Regions from separate parts of the Homo sapiens genome. Here region 2 is linked to region 1. A link means that fine-mapping ties the variant in region 1 to the expression of a gene that starts in the linked region. Tissue or cell type: nasal epithelium. Region 1 holds a variant in brackets; the other region holds the start of a gene. All regions are shown on one strand. Distances are from middle to middle.

Region 1 (8,448 bases):
CACTCAGTCTGAAAGGCCTTTCAAGTGGGGCCAGGAATTAGTTTCAGTGATTAGGGTGGGGTGAGGTTAGAGACTCCGGAACAAAAAAGTCAGAAGAAATCAACTCAATTGAGGTAAAATGGGTAAGTTTGACCAAAGGCATGTTGGGGTCTTGGCAGAGAAGTTGGTGGGGGAAGACAAAGGTAGTATTGGAGCTGGCATAGCCTCAGGCTATCAGAGTGACCAGTTTTGGAGATCAAAGTTCAGGAGGGGGTGTGGTATTTAGGCCCCATCCATTCTGATGCCTCATCCAGGGCCTCTGACTAGGGTTGGCAGTGGGTATCTCAGGGACATGCATGGCAGTCTTGGAAGGCAGGTTCTCCACGTCCTGTCTGGTTTATAATAGGACGTCAGTCAGCGATTTGAGGAAACGGGAATAGAGTAGATAGCAGGAAACATCTGAAAGAGTGGCAGGGCTAGAGAGTCTCAGTGCAGTTGAACCTGAGACAGGCCTTAGGAAAATCAGACAAATTCTAGATCTCAGCCTCCAGTAGGAGGGGCTCATTATCCTCTCTGCATTAGACAGGGTGGGCTCAGGATCTGAGGAAGCGGGTCTAAGTGTGCGACGTGAAGGCTTTCAGTTCCTATACTTGCTCAGGGTGAGGGAACCAGGCTGGCATTGATGCAAAGACCAAGCCTTCTGTCACTGAAGGACAAGCACGTTGTGTCTGCGAGTGGATGAGGACATAGAATCCCAAATGGCGGGAGCTGGAAGGACCCATACCCACAAGGTCTTGCCTGGGCCTCACAATGAAATTATTGGGACCCTGTGTCCCATATGTCTTGATTTCCAGCCTCCAACCCCATATGGTTGCTCTTGGGACCCAGTAGAGACCACAGTTGCTCTACCCCTGAGAAAGGCAGGCGATGGGATTTAGGAGGCCCAATCTGACTTCCTGTATGTGGTTTTTGTTGATTAGGAATAGGACTCTTCAATCTGCAGCATGGACTTATCACCCAGGCATTTGATAAAACTGTTTTGAATCAGCCCATAATCTAAGCCTGTACATTCTCTAGGGATGGGAATTCCTAAATTCACTTCTTCCTAAACTACTGCATGCACATTTGTTCCGATTTTGAAAGGAAATGCAGAATCGTTGAAAACGATGGGCATTGGAATCAGATGGCTTGGGTTCAGGTACAGGTTGAACCAACTGTGTACTCTTGGTCATACCCCTGAATCTCATTTTCTTCACTGGAAAAATGGAGAAAGGGTCATCAGAAGGCTTACATGAAGTAATGTGCCTAAAGTGCCAAGTACAGTTCCTGGCACAAAGTAGATGCTTAATAAGTGATTGCTGACTTATGCAATATTTTGTTAAGCACATAAGACCTGGGCTCTTATTTTAGATCCACCAAAATCAGACTATGTGTCTTTGGGCAGCTGCCTCTCACTCTGAGCCACAGTTGTCTTCAGTAACATGGGGAAAATAATGGCCTCCTCACCAGGCTATTGAGAAGTTTTAATGAGATGCTTGTAAAGTCTCCCAGGCTCCTCCTGGTTCTCAGGTTTAGGGGAAACTGCCTTATCGTGTAAACGATTGGAATGTGTGAGCTCACTTTCCACATCCTAACGGATATAAAAGCCTCTGATTCTAGGCTAGAAGCATTCCCCTGCCCACCTCATCCTTTTTATATTTTTTTTGAGACGTATTCTCACTCTGTCACCCAGGCTGGAGTGCAGTGGCGCGATCTCGGCCCACTGCAAGCTCCGCCTCCTGGGTTCACACCATTCTCCTGCCTCAGCCTCCTGAGTAGCTGGGACTACAGGCACCCGCCACCATGCCTGGCTAATTTTTTTTTTTTTTTTTTTTTGTAGGGACGGGGTTTCACCATGTTAGCCAGGATGGTCTCGATCTCCTGACCTCGTGATCCACCTGCCTCGGCCTCCCAAAGTGCTGGGATTACAGGTGTGAGCCACCGTGCCCGGCCCCACCTCATCCTTTATTCCCCTCTCCCTAATTCAGGTGTCATCCCCTCTCACCAGGACGGCTCCACCTGCCCTCTCACAATCTCTCCCCTGCAGTGTCTCTTGCTCCAGCTGATTTTCTCCACAGTAGAAGGACACCTAGAAGGCAGAAACCTGACCACTCTGCCCTCCTGCTCAAATCCTCCTGGCATGGCATTCAGGGTTCTCCATATTCGAGCCAGGCCAACCTTTCCATTTGCTCTCCCAGATTCTTCCTTGCAGATGCACAGTTTACATTCACATTTACGCACATCCTCATTAGGAAAAGATGCCTGGGCTCAAAAGCCGTAGGTGTATATTCTGGCCCTTGTTTGGCCATCTGGTCACCTTATACACACTGTTTCCTTTCTCTGGTTCCTTATCTGGAATGTTAAGGATTGAACTAGATGAAAGCTCAGAGTCTCCTATAGTTTGAATGTTTGTGCTTCCTCCAAAATCCATGTTGAAACAGAATCCCCAATGCAACAGTACTAAGAGGTGTGGCCTGTGGGAGGTGATTAAGTCATGAGGGTTCTATTCTCATGAATGGGATTTGGCCCCTTATGAAAGAGCTCAGGTTGAAGGGAGCACTATCTCACCTTCTGCCTTCCACCATGTGAGGACGCAGTGTTCCTCCACTCTGGAAGACGCAGCAACAAGGCATCATCTCAGAGGCAGACAGCAACCTTTACCAGAGACCAATGGCAGTGTTTTGATCTGGGACTCCCCAAACTTCAGAACTATAAGAAATAAATTTCTGTTCTCTGATACTTTGTTATAGCAGCACAAATGGACTAAGACAGGGTCTTTCAGCTCTAAGGTATTTTAACAAAATTTGATGCCCTCTAGGGTGACCAAGAATTGTTTCTTTCTTTTTTTCTCTCACCACACATAGGAACAAATACACGGATTCTCAAACACTCACATGCAAACTCTTACACAAGTACACACTTCCTAATACATAAGGACATGTGTTTTCACACAGATATTCTCACATATGCACTTAATACTCCATACACTTAAGAACTCATGTTTTCTTATAAACACTCTTACGTACATGCAAATGCTAGTCTGTCTTGTTCTCCACTGAATCTCCAGCATCTAGAGAGCAGAGTAAATCCTCAAAACTCATTCCTGGAATGAACGAATAAATGACCCTCTCTGCCCACCATATTGACACAGGCATTCACACACATCAGTTTTGTATATACAAGAAATAAGATGTGCACACTCAAAAGTGTGAGTGAATGCTGACATACATTAAATATGCCCAGCACAATCACTCCCACCCACAGACTCACATTTTATATCTCCTTCAGGGGCCCTCCCAGGAGCTGAGCTAAGGGAGACCCTTTTCTCGGTCATGCTGAAAGTTTCCTTGTTGTCAGGTTTGACTCCAGGAACATCCAAGGACCTCGCTTCAGATGTCAGAGATAACACCACAACCTTCTATTTGGACAGTCCTTTGTAAAAGTCAAATCACTTTATCAGATGATATCCCACTTGATCCTCTCAGCAGACCTGAGGGAGGCCTTTGAGCTGGGGTTATCCTCTCCATGTTACAGACAGGGTAACAGAGACCTGTAGAGATTAGGTCATTTGTCCAAGGTCAGAAAGCCAGCTAGTAAGTGAATCACCCAACCAGAACCCACCCCGCCTGCTCCCCGCCCCCCCTTCCCCCGTCTCGGGCTCTTTCCGTTGCCTCTCCCAGTGACTGGTTTAAGAGGATTATTTATTCTTCAGTTGTTTTCGCCGCCTAATTTCTGTCTTTCTTTATCCTTTTTTTATCCCCCGTTTCCGCCTCCAAAGAGTAGAGTTTCAGTAGGGAGTAAGGGAGGCCAAGTTCACCATCAGAAGAAAAATC[TA/T]AAAGTATCTTTTCCTTGTAAATCTCAGCCAAAATTCCTGCCAAATAAAATGAGAACTTACCACACTCGCACGCACCCACCTTCACAAAGAACCAACTTAACTTGCAAAAGGAACAAAGTTAATAAAGTTAATATCTACTGCAGAGAACAGAGTAAGGCCCCTCTGGCCATGTAATTTGCCAACTAATTAAAAGTTATTCAGCTTTATAATTTCAAAAATTTGCATCACTTTTAGTTGCTTGGAAGGAATTGGTAATGTGCAAGCCTATTCTGGTCATTTTGGCTTTGGGCGAGCATGTGGGCCAGTCTGCACCATTTCTTTTCCACAAAGATGGCACTGTGGGAAGCCTGGGGGCTCCCTTTGGGGCTTTGTGGACGCACCTGTAGCCTTGCTGGCACCACTCTTTCCTGGTTCCAGCAGCCCTCAGGAGAGATGGTAAGGCAGTGTGACAAGATCACTGGCTTTGGAGTCAGGCTGACTGGTTTGAATCCCAGCTTTACCCCTTAATGGCTATATGACCATGGACAAGTTGTTTAACCTCATGGGCTTCAATTTCCTCATCTATGAAAAAGCTACTGATACCACTACCTTGGAAGGTTATTATTAGAATTAGGGCTAGCTTATATCCTAGCACATAGTAGATGCTCAATAAATGGTAGATACCATCAGATTGGTCAACCTAGCACTTGATTCTACCCTGTCTTAGGTTTCTAGGTGGAGGTTGTGTGGAGGGAGTAATAGGATAGTTAGGGAAGAGGGACAGAGGAGAACCAGGTTCCATGCCTGGCTGTACAATGGATTTGGGAAACTAACCCCTCTCTGGTCTCTGCCACCCCATCCATACATCTCTAAGGGGCTTTCCAACCCTGTGACCTGCATGTTGGCCAAGGATTAAGACTGGGTCTCCTCCTATCTCTACCCTTGGGTTAGAGAAAAGGCCAGATACACAGTATCTGCTCGAAGACAACCTAGCTGTTTGACTTTGTCCACTGCTGGTCAACCAAGTCGAGAGACATGGTAGATGCAAACTCAGATATACTCAGGTCAACTGTGTTCAAGGAAGGGATGACAATGTTATCTCATGTAACTGTTACATTGAATAAGCCAGACTCATGGGGGAATAATCAAGAAACAACTTTCATCAGTTATTCTGCACTTCTGAGTCTCTTTTGTTCTTTTTGATGAAATCTGGGACTTGCTTTATGACTCTTCTGTTTTCTCTTAGGTAATACAAATTTCCCCATCTGTCTTAAATCACAAAATATTGTTTCTGCTCGGTAATTAACTTGTCTAGGATACTACTATTACTCATCTTAGTCCATTTTGTGCTGCTATAGCAGAATAACTGAGACCGGGTAATTTAGAAGGAAGAGAAATTTATTTCTTATGGTTCTGGAGGATAGGAAGTCCAAGATCAAGGAGCTGGCATCTGGCGAGGGCCCTCCTGCTGCATCGTCCCATGGTGGAAAGGCAAAGAGAGGGCAAGAGATTGAACTCCCAGCCTCACGCCCTTTTATAATTGGCATTAATCCATTCATGAGGGTGGAGCCCTCATGGCCTAATTACCTCTCATTAAGCCCCACCTCCCAACACTGTTGCATTGGGGATTAAGTTTCCAACACATGCTTTTCAGGGAACACATTTAAACCATAGCACTACTGTTAACCTATTAACAATAATAGCAGTAATAAACTTCAAACTTCCTTTAAAAGCAAGATTTTTTTTCCCCTCACTACTTGCTTGGACCTGGAACTGCTGCTGGCCTGCAGTGAGAAAGAGGCTCAATCTCCTGCAGTGAGAAAGGGGCTGTTTCTTCTTTCTACTTCTCTGTCTATGTCTTGCTAACCATTGTGGATTTATATATATATATATATATATATATATCTCTATTGTCAGGAATGGGAAGAGAAAAAGAAGGAAGAGGAACAGGAGAATTTTTACTGGACAAGTATAGAATTGAAGATACAGGGTCTCTCTGAGCTTGGCAGGCATTAACCTTACTTCTTCTTTCATTTGGTATATTTGTGGGTTCTTTGGAAAATCCCCACCCCCAACTCATGCAGGTGATCCCTGATGTGGGTAAATGCATTTTGATTCTAGCTGGCTCCTTCAGATTCCTTCCCCAGCCCCTAGGCATCTTCCAGCACCACCTGCCTCTTTATGCTGAGGTCCTTCATCCCACTAGATGGTCCTCTGACAGGGTTTAGGAAGACTTAGACCATCTCTCTGTCGTGTGTTCCAGATCTAGTTCAAGAAAACACATCTGCATTCTCTACCTTGATAAACTGAGAATTTACATTGTCCCCAGTGCAGCAACCTCCCTTTATTCTTCTGTTGGGCAGCTGGTCAGCCGGCATCTAACCTTTTACATTTAGCAGTGGGAATCAGATTCTAGTTTACAGTATCCCCCAAATATAGGGAAAACATCATGTTCTCCAACTATCCCATTAAAGTCACTTTCCCCGGGCTTGAGTTAATGGAGGGAGTGGACAAAGACACACGATGTACTTACAGCTCTTTCCAGAAAAACCCTATCTAATCCCCCACTTTGTTCTTGGCCTCTCCCACCTCTTTTATATGCCAGAGTTGAGTAAGGATCAGCAAGGAACCTCAAAAGTAGTTTTTAATACAATCTTTTGCAGTTCTTACAGGTTGGTCCTACACTGTACTTGCAGAGGTGGTGTCCATTATCTTGGGGCCTCCCATGAAATGTGGACTAATGTAGTTTATGTTTTTTTTCCAAGGCAAAACTCTGAGGTAGATATTGCTACCTGTATTTCATGGTTGAGAAAACAGATTGGGAGAGGCTAAGCAACTAGCTCTAAGCATACAGCTAGTGGGGATTAAAAACCAAGTTAATCAGATCAAAACCTGAATTCTTTTCATCCTACATGAAGATTGAGCTTTACCTCTATAGCAGCTGGTGGATATAAAAATGCTTGAGGGCCTGCCACACAGCCAAGTTAAGCATCCACATCACAATCGAGTGTGACTGTCAGCTCCTTATTAATCTTGAAGCATGTTCCTATCCATGAACTCATTTGCTGGGACATCATCCAGGACAAGAACCTTCCCAATGCCCATTGAATTGCTTTTGAAGAACCCAGCAAATAAAGTCTTTCTTGTGCTTGACCCAAGCATTGATTACCTCTTTCATTTTATCCCTACGGTTTTTAGTTAATTTCTTCTGCTTTTCAGTTCTGCTGATTATTATGTTGGAGAGAGACCCTCAATTAACATAATCTTTATAATCACCAACAACATGTATTTAAAAAGTGTTCATTTGTTTGTAACATCTGCCTTTATCTTGTTCATCTCTGTGTCTGCAGCAGTCTTAGTACATATTATTACTCCATAAAGGGTAGTTGAATTAATTCATTAGCTAAACAGAGTTAATTTAAGGGTGGGTTAGAGTTGGGGAAGGAGAATGAGAAGGAGGGAAATGCGTACCTATGGGAGCTGTAATGTCAACCAACCATGGCTCATACTCCCAATTCCCTGGGCATGCCTGGGTAAGGGTCTGTTAGCTTCAACTTTCTCACCTGACCAACAGGGATAAGGGTCTCCGTCCTGTCAGCCTCACTGGGAGTGTAAGATGAACCTCCAACAAATCATCGAAGTAGAAAGACATAAAAAAGTATCACACATGTGGGTTTAGTCTGGGAAAACAAAACTTCTGACTCAGCCTGGGTCTCCTCAGACAGTGGGCTAGGAAGACCCAGAAAACCACTCTGGCCTGTGTGAGTTGCAAACAGAGGCTTCTACTTTCTGGGATAAATTATCCATGAGGCAGAGGCGTCAGGGCTGTCTGCTCCCTGTCTGGCCTCCTTTGCCATCTCACTTCATGAGGCATAAATCCCCAAGACTCCCCAGTCATTTCTTATCTGCGTCAGTGTTTATTTTTTTAAATTGTGTTCCGCCCTCTTTTCTCTGCTTGCTATTTTATAGGGATATGGGCCAGGAGGGCAGAATCCAACTACAAATCTCACAGCTCTCCCTGCTGAGACGTTGGGACAGAGGGAGTGAGCTATGGTGGTCTGAAGCGTAGATGTTCCAGCAAGGGCCAGAGAAAGTGCCTTGGGGTATTTCCTGAGAAGTGGGGCTCTGAGATTTGCTCTCCTGGTGTGCCCAGACCTCAGAATGCAGAATCCAGAGAGAACAGAGAGTGTGCTCATGAGAAAAGGACACCAGGTGTGCTATTGGACTCATCTCCATCACACCTAGCTGGGTGACATTGACTAAGCTACCGAATGTCTCTTAGCCTCATTTTAGTCTTTAATGGGCATGACAATAACTCTTAAGGTGATTGTGAGGATCAACTGGGATGACCCAGGCCACTGTGTCTAGCATACCACCTGCCATGGGAGGTGTGCAGTACACATCAATTCCTCTTATCTTCAGCTGTGATTGTGAAGTAATGCATTTATCATCTAGTGTTCCTCAAGACTCTTGAATGTAAGCTCCTTCTAGGCAGGGACTTTGTCTGGCTTGTTCACCCCAGGATCCCCATCACCCAGTAGAATGCCTGACATATTATCTGTGCTCAATCAACGTTGGCTGAATAATGAATGAAACCAAATTCTCCATATGATTTC
Region 2 (6,381 bases), 78 kb before region 1:
GCAAGCACAGCAGGTGAGGAGTGTACATCCCCAACATGTAATACTGCTGAAATAGAAGCAAACACGCAGACTCTTACCCCAAATTCCAGTATACGCCACTCTCAACTGATACCACCAGAGCAGCCAGGTGCTGCCTCGCTGCCCAGCAGAACCTCTCCTTCCAGAAAAAGGACCTGACTCTGGCTGCCTCCCCCTCCCCCTCGGAGAAGAAAGACAATCAGAGAAGAGGACCCAGGTACCCAGGGCTGTCAGCTCCGGGCTGGGGCACTGCATGCCTACCTGGGAGAAGTTGAGCCCGTTGTTGAGGGGATGGCACTGCTCCTCCACCTGCTCCACAGCCCCTGTGGTCTTCTTCATCTTCTCAGCCTGCTGGGCCAGGTAGAGGTCGAGCACGGGCACACCACGGAAGCGCACGTCCCTCTCTGTGAGCGAGTTTACCATGAGCATCACCCAGACGGGCCTCTTGCGCTCCCAGTTGCCCGCGATGGCATTGAATAGGTAGTCAGCATAGAGCCCCTTGCCCCGCTGAGCGGGCGTCATCCAGGAGGGCATCATCAACTTCACGTAGTCCAGGTGGCGCTTCAAGCGCCAGTAAAGCTCGTGGGGCAGCACGTCCTGCAGGTTTTCCCCGTGCGGCAGCAGCTGGCAGCTGGCCAGGGCCGAGATGGTGTAGGGGTCTGTAAGGTCCAGCTCAAAGTAGACACGGGTGCTAGCCTGGAAGGCTGCCTTGGAGTTGTCCGGGATGAAGTCCCAGACGCGGGTGTAGGGGACGTGAATAGTGCCAAACAGGTAGGCCGGAGGATCACGCCGAATCGTCCACAGGAAGGAGTTCAAGTCCCTCTGCTGCAGGAGTAGAGAAGAGGCAAGGCAGTGAGGCCGAAGGCAACAGAGTAGAGTCAGGGTAGCCCAGAGGCACGTTGCAGAGGGAGGTGGGGATGGGAGGCAGAGACCATACACAGGCCGTGGTAAAGAGCCAGGTCTTTGGAGCCTGAAAGACCCACATTGAAAACCTAGCTTTGCCCTGTCTTAGATGTATGATCTTGAGTGAATCATTTCACTTCCACAGGCTCAGTTTCCTCATCTGTAAAATGGGGGTGAAAGCAACTACCTCGGGTTGTTGGGAGGATTAAAAGATACAATATATGTATATTAAGCCCTCAGAGCAGTGCCAGGTACAGAGGAAGTCAGCAATGAAGGGAAACTCTCATGATTAGCGTTCCCTGTGAGTGCCAAGGACTGCCACACCACCTGAGAATATTCATGCTTGGCCAAGTCAAACCTTCACCGGTGGTGTTTCATGCGGAGGGTGGGGAAAGGAGGACCAAGAGTCCTGCTCTGGCAAGAAGGGAGGAAGTCATATAACTTTTAAATCCAACCATTAGAAGATATAAGCCAAGAGCACTTTGAAAGCAGAACACCTATTAAAAATAGCACACCTATTTAAACAGCTACTTCACATTCATCACGGTGAATACACTTTTCTTTTTGGAGGGCAGGTCTGGGGTGTCAGCTACTTTGCTCGACCAGCTGAGACCATAGATGAGAAAGTGCTTTAAAATCTTGCAAGGCCAAGTCAAGTTTCAGAATCTGGTTTGGGAGGAAAGGATTCCATTACAATTAGTCCCAAGAAATGTACATATTCTGGGTACTTTCCAGGCTCCTCCCCTAAAAATGTATACCTGATTTCCAACCCCAGTTGTTTGTCATTTTCTATGACCTAAGCTCCGACTTAGGGGAGTGTGTGTGCGTGTGTGTGTGTGTGTGTGCGCGTGTGTGTGTATGTAGGAGCTGAAGAGAGGCATGCAGACAGGGGTCCTTTCTACAGATCCAAGTCAGGGCTAGGCATAAAGGGCAAAGCCATTTTCCAACCAGAAAAATCCCTGGAGTGCCCACTGACCACTTGCAAGCTTTAGACCAACTCATAACACTTTTCTGCCTGATTCTGGCACAAATGAAAAGTATGTGTTGGGATGGGTGGGTTGTGGGAGAACAGTACCTTACTTTACTAACAACCCCAAACTGTTAATCCCAGCATGTTGGCGATAGACTGAGAGCCCAGTCAGCCAACGAGCTCCCTGTTTGTGCACAAGGCAGGCTGCTGGAGGTGCACCTTGCCCAAGGTCAGCGAATTCCGGGCTAACAGGCAGCACACCTACAGCAGCCAGACCCTATGGTCTCCTGGCCTCCAATTCAGGGTTACTGTCAATGCATTAATTTACACTTAGAGGGAAAGATACTGAAGGAAATAAAGAGGTTCTTTGTTTTGGAAGGAATATTAGGAGAACCAGTAATTACTCGACCCCAAGAAATATTAGGCCAGTATGTCCTGGCATTGCCTTTTCCTCTCCTCTGAAATCTTCCCTCTTTTCACGAAATATGGACGCTTGGGAGAGTAGGTGGTGGGAGCCTGGGCCGCAGAGATGGAGGTGAGAACGAGGAACAGGGAGAAAGTTTGTCTTAGGTCAGAGTGGGAGGGCAGGGAGAGAGAGGGAAGCCTGGGAGGGGGCAGAGTGTGTGAATGGGAGAGCAAAAGGGTTCGATGGAAGTCAAGAGAAGGGCAAGGAACGGTAGAAAAACACAGTCAGAAGCGGGCAGAGAGACCAGAAGGGTAAAGACAGAAAAAATATGAGAAAGGAGAGACAAAAAGGGGCAGAGAGAGAGGAGGCGTCCAAGCAGGACCACAAGTCAAGAGGAGAGCCCCAGAGCGGCAGCGTGTGGAGAAGGAACCGGAGAGGGAGCGCCCCTTCTCGCTCCTGGCTGGGAGCTGGAGCCGGGACAGGCAGGAGCGAAGGAAGGGCGCCCGAGGCTGCGCCCGGGGGGTGGAGGTGGAGCGGGCGGGCTAAGGTGGGTGCGGAAGCAGGACCCAAACCATGGTCCCACGGGACTAGAATACCCAGGCAGGCGGGAGAGTGGCCGGGCAGGCGCTCGCTCACCGATCCGGGCGGCCGGCACTGTCCTCCGTCCGGGGGCTGCGGGCGGGCGCGAGCGGTGGCGAGGAGGGCGGCGAGCAGCGGCCCCGCCAGGGCGGCGTGCATCCTGCCAGGGCCCGCGGGGCGCGGGGGACCCTCCTGGGCGGCGCCCCTCAGCGGGGCGGGGAGCCCCCAGTTGGGCACGGAGTTTCCTCTGGAGCACGGGGCTCCAGCCGCAGGATGCTGGGCGCCCTCTGGGGCGTGGCTGACTGTCCCTGTCGGACCTGGGGGTTTCTCTGGGGCCGGGCTCCGTCTGTTGGAAGAGGGAGACCCTCTAGGGCTGGGCCCCTCCCCCGGGCGCTCAACCTCGCTGGCCGAGCCCCCGGGTGCTGAGGGCGTGTTGGGGTCCGGGGGCGCGCGGGGTCCCGGAGCTGCGTCGCGGTCCAGGGGCGCGCGGGGTTCCTGGGGCAGAACCGAGAACCCGGGGTGCGCAAGGGTCCCGGGGTTATGCTGGGCACCCGGGGCACGCAAGGGTCCCAGGGGTGCGCGGCGCTCCAGGAGGCGCGCAGTGGGACAAGTGCGGCGGAAGGCGCGGCAGGGGTGGGGGGCGGCTCTGGGGCGACCGGCTGCCCCCGAGCCCGGCTCAGAGGGGCGGCGGGCGGCCGCGCGGCCGCTGCCCGGGCTCCGCCATGCTGCTCCGCGGCCGGGAGGGAGGGAGAGAGGAGGGCGGGAGAGCGGCGCGGAGCCGGGCCGGGCTGGGGGCTGGGGCCGCTGGGGCGGGGGAGGGGAGGACCTGGCGCGGGGGGCGGGGGGGCGAGGGGCCGGGGCCGCGCCGGGCCGGGCCGGGACGGGCCGGGCGGCAGGGAGTCAGGGCTAGCTCCGCGCCCGGGCGCGGCGAGGCGGGGTCTGATGGGCATGGCAGGCGCTCGCTCGCTCCTCTCTCGCTCCCTCGTTCGCTCCCTCACACGCGCGGAGGGAGGCGAAGCCCGCAGCAGCCACTTCCCAACTTTCCAAACTTCCCAGCGCAACTTTTTCCTCCCCTCCCCTGCCCGCGCCTCCTCCTCCCCCATCCCTCCTCCTTCCCTTCGCCAGGCGCGACCGGGCCGCAGCTTCCCCGTGCGGCCGCCAGAGGGCGCCCGGGCTAAGGACCCGCTCGGCCAACCTCCGCCGGCTCGGCGGCGGACGCGGACTGGTGGCAGCGACAGATTTGGGGACCAGCCTCGCCCAACGCATCCGTCCCGCAGATCCTGGCAGGAGCGAACAGCGAGAGGGACAGGAGTTGGACTGGGGAGGCAGCAATCACACAAAATTCAGAAAGCTGCTGTGTGCAACCTTATGTCACGCGTAGCTCTGGGATGCGCTTGGTAGATGCTCTGCAAACACCAAATGTAAAAGAAAAGAAAAGAAATCCTCAAAATTCCTTGGAATCTTCCATTTAAGTAATCCCCTCTTATCTATGTCCTTGGACCCACGCAGGATCCCTGTGTCTGTCTCTGGAAGAGTGAGAATTGATATCCCAGTTTCTTAGACCACAAGACTTGAAAGACCCCTTAAACCAACCTACCCTTCCTCAAGAGGCAAATGAGACTTAGAGAAGGCCAGAGCACAAGATCTAAGCTTCTGAGCCGTTTCCAGCAAATGAAGAAAGGGAGGCACAGGCACCCCTGCTTGGTTCTGTTAAAGGAGAGTTTGTCGTCTCTTCCTATCCTGACAACAAAGATTGACAGATGAATTAGGTCATACTGTCAGGAGCCCACAGCCTAGAGAAGGAGACAGACAGAGACAGATATGCAAAGACGCCATTAAAATACAGATGATGAGGGCCAGGAGAGACAGAAGCACAAGGAAATGGGAGCAGAGAGGAAGAGCTCCTAACACAGCTCAGAGGCCCAGGGAAGACGCCTGGGAGATGGTCTTGAAAAATAAGTCAGAGGTAGCTTAGAGAAGGAGGTGCACATGCCTTCCAAGCGGAGGAAGAGCAGGTGCCAAGGCGCAGCAGTGTGAGAGCACACCTGCAGGGGACTGCAAGCAGTTACCCATGGCTGCGGCAAAAAGCAAGTGGCAGGAGCTGAAGTTGTGTCTTCTGGCCAAGCTGGGGAGTCTGTCCGTTCTAGGTATCAGGTCATAGGAAGTCACTGCAAGATTTGAAGTTTAAGGTGGCTAGAGTAGATCTGTGCTCATCGGGGGCATGAATTGGAGGGGGCAAGTTGGAGGCAGGGAGACCAGTGGGCAGATAGTCAGTGAGGAGGGAGCCAGAGCCCAAGCCTCGGTCTCCTGACTCCCAGCCCAGTGTTCTCCCCACTTCTCCCACTCATGCCTGCAGGTACCAGATTGAGCAGCTAGAAAATGACCATACTAGAAGGCTGAGTGAGAAAGACCAAGCAGGGCTGGAGGGCCAGAAAGGTTTTCCAGAGCACAGGATCTGGGTGGTTGGGAGGAACACGGGAAGGAAAGAAGGGGACACCAGAGACTGGCAGGTTTACCCTCATGTGCACATGAAGTTGCCACTTTTGTAAGTTACAAGTGAATGCATGTTGGCAATTTCATATGGTTCAACTTACTGGGTGTCTGGAGCAACCTCAGCCTCTTAGCTACACACACACTTGGTGACAGACACCAAGCAGGCCAGAGTGCCCAGACGGTATGTATGAGAGCACAGGACAGCGCCATGCTTCCCACACACAGAGCTCTGAGACCTGCAGCTCTGACAAGAGATGTCCTTTAAAGAGTCTCCACTTTCCGGAGCTCCAAAACTCCCTACAAGGTCACCACTCTGCTGGTAAGGATGAGGGGAAGTGAGAACTGAATTCCACTGGAGGGAGGGTCATGGTTCTCATTGGAGAATTAGAAGACACAAGTCAGATAGTGGATAAGAAAGAGCCTGATCAATTTAAAACAATGATGTGTGTAAATATGTGTGTGGATTTAAAAAACCTTCCCCTGCTGTATTGTAAACAAAGTTTCCCTGGTATCTTTTTTCCTAAAATTATAAAAGTTTTGTTGGCTAATTTTCATGAGTGTCAGCTATGACTTCCTCCTCCATGGTACACGTGGTGACTGTGACCAAGGCAGGACAGTTAGCTTTTCTGTGCCTCTCTTTCCCCAGCCAGTTTCCTGTCCCCCTCACTTTCTGTGCGTCAATGTGTGCAATAATGTCTTAAGATCTTTACCAGTATTGTTACTGATATTCTTAAAGAGAAGCAAGAACAAATAGATTTTTCTGTTCCTAGATATATACCCAAGAGAACTGAGGACATTCATCGACACAAAAACTTCTACGTAAAGCCTGATAGCAGCATTATTTATTATAGCCAAAAGGTGGAAACAACCCAAGTGTTCATCAACTTATGAATAAATTAACAAAATGTGATATATAAAAATATCATATCATATGCTAAATATATACATTTAAAAAACATGTTATAGTCATATGATGGAATATTATTTGGCCATAAAACAAAATGAAGCACTG

What was found. PIP is the estimated chance that this variant, and not a neighbour inherited with it, causes the effect.
Region 2: TRABD2B starts here. The variant in region 1 is fine-mapped to the expression of TRABD2B in nasal epithelium (TOPMed, PIP above 0.99).

The regions. Positions count from the first base shown.
Region 1 is chr1:48,070,340-48,078,787 of GRCh38, forward strand. The region is part of intron 4 of LINC02794 (long intergenic non-protein coding RNA 2794); the gene reads left to right. Among named protein-coding and RNA genes, the nearest start is that of LINC02794, 25 kb to the left of the region's middle. The variant TA/T (reference allele first, on the strand shown) is at 3,852.
Region 2 is chr1:47,993,755-48,000,135 of GRCh38, forward strand. It overlaps TRABD2B (TraB domain containing 2B), which reads right to left and starts at 3,631. Exons shown (of 7, transcript NM_001194986.2): 1 at 2,934-3,631; 2 at 280-843. The coding sequence starts at 3,035. RefSeq lists an enhancer at 4,123-4,172.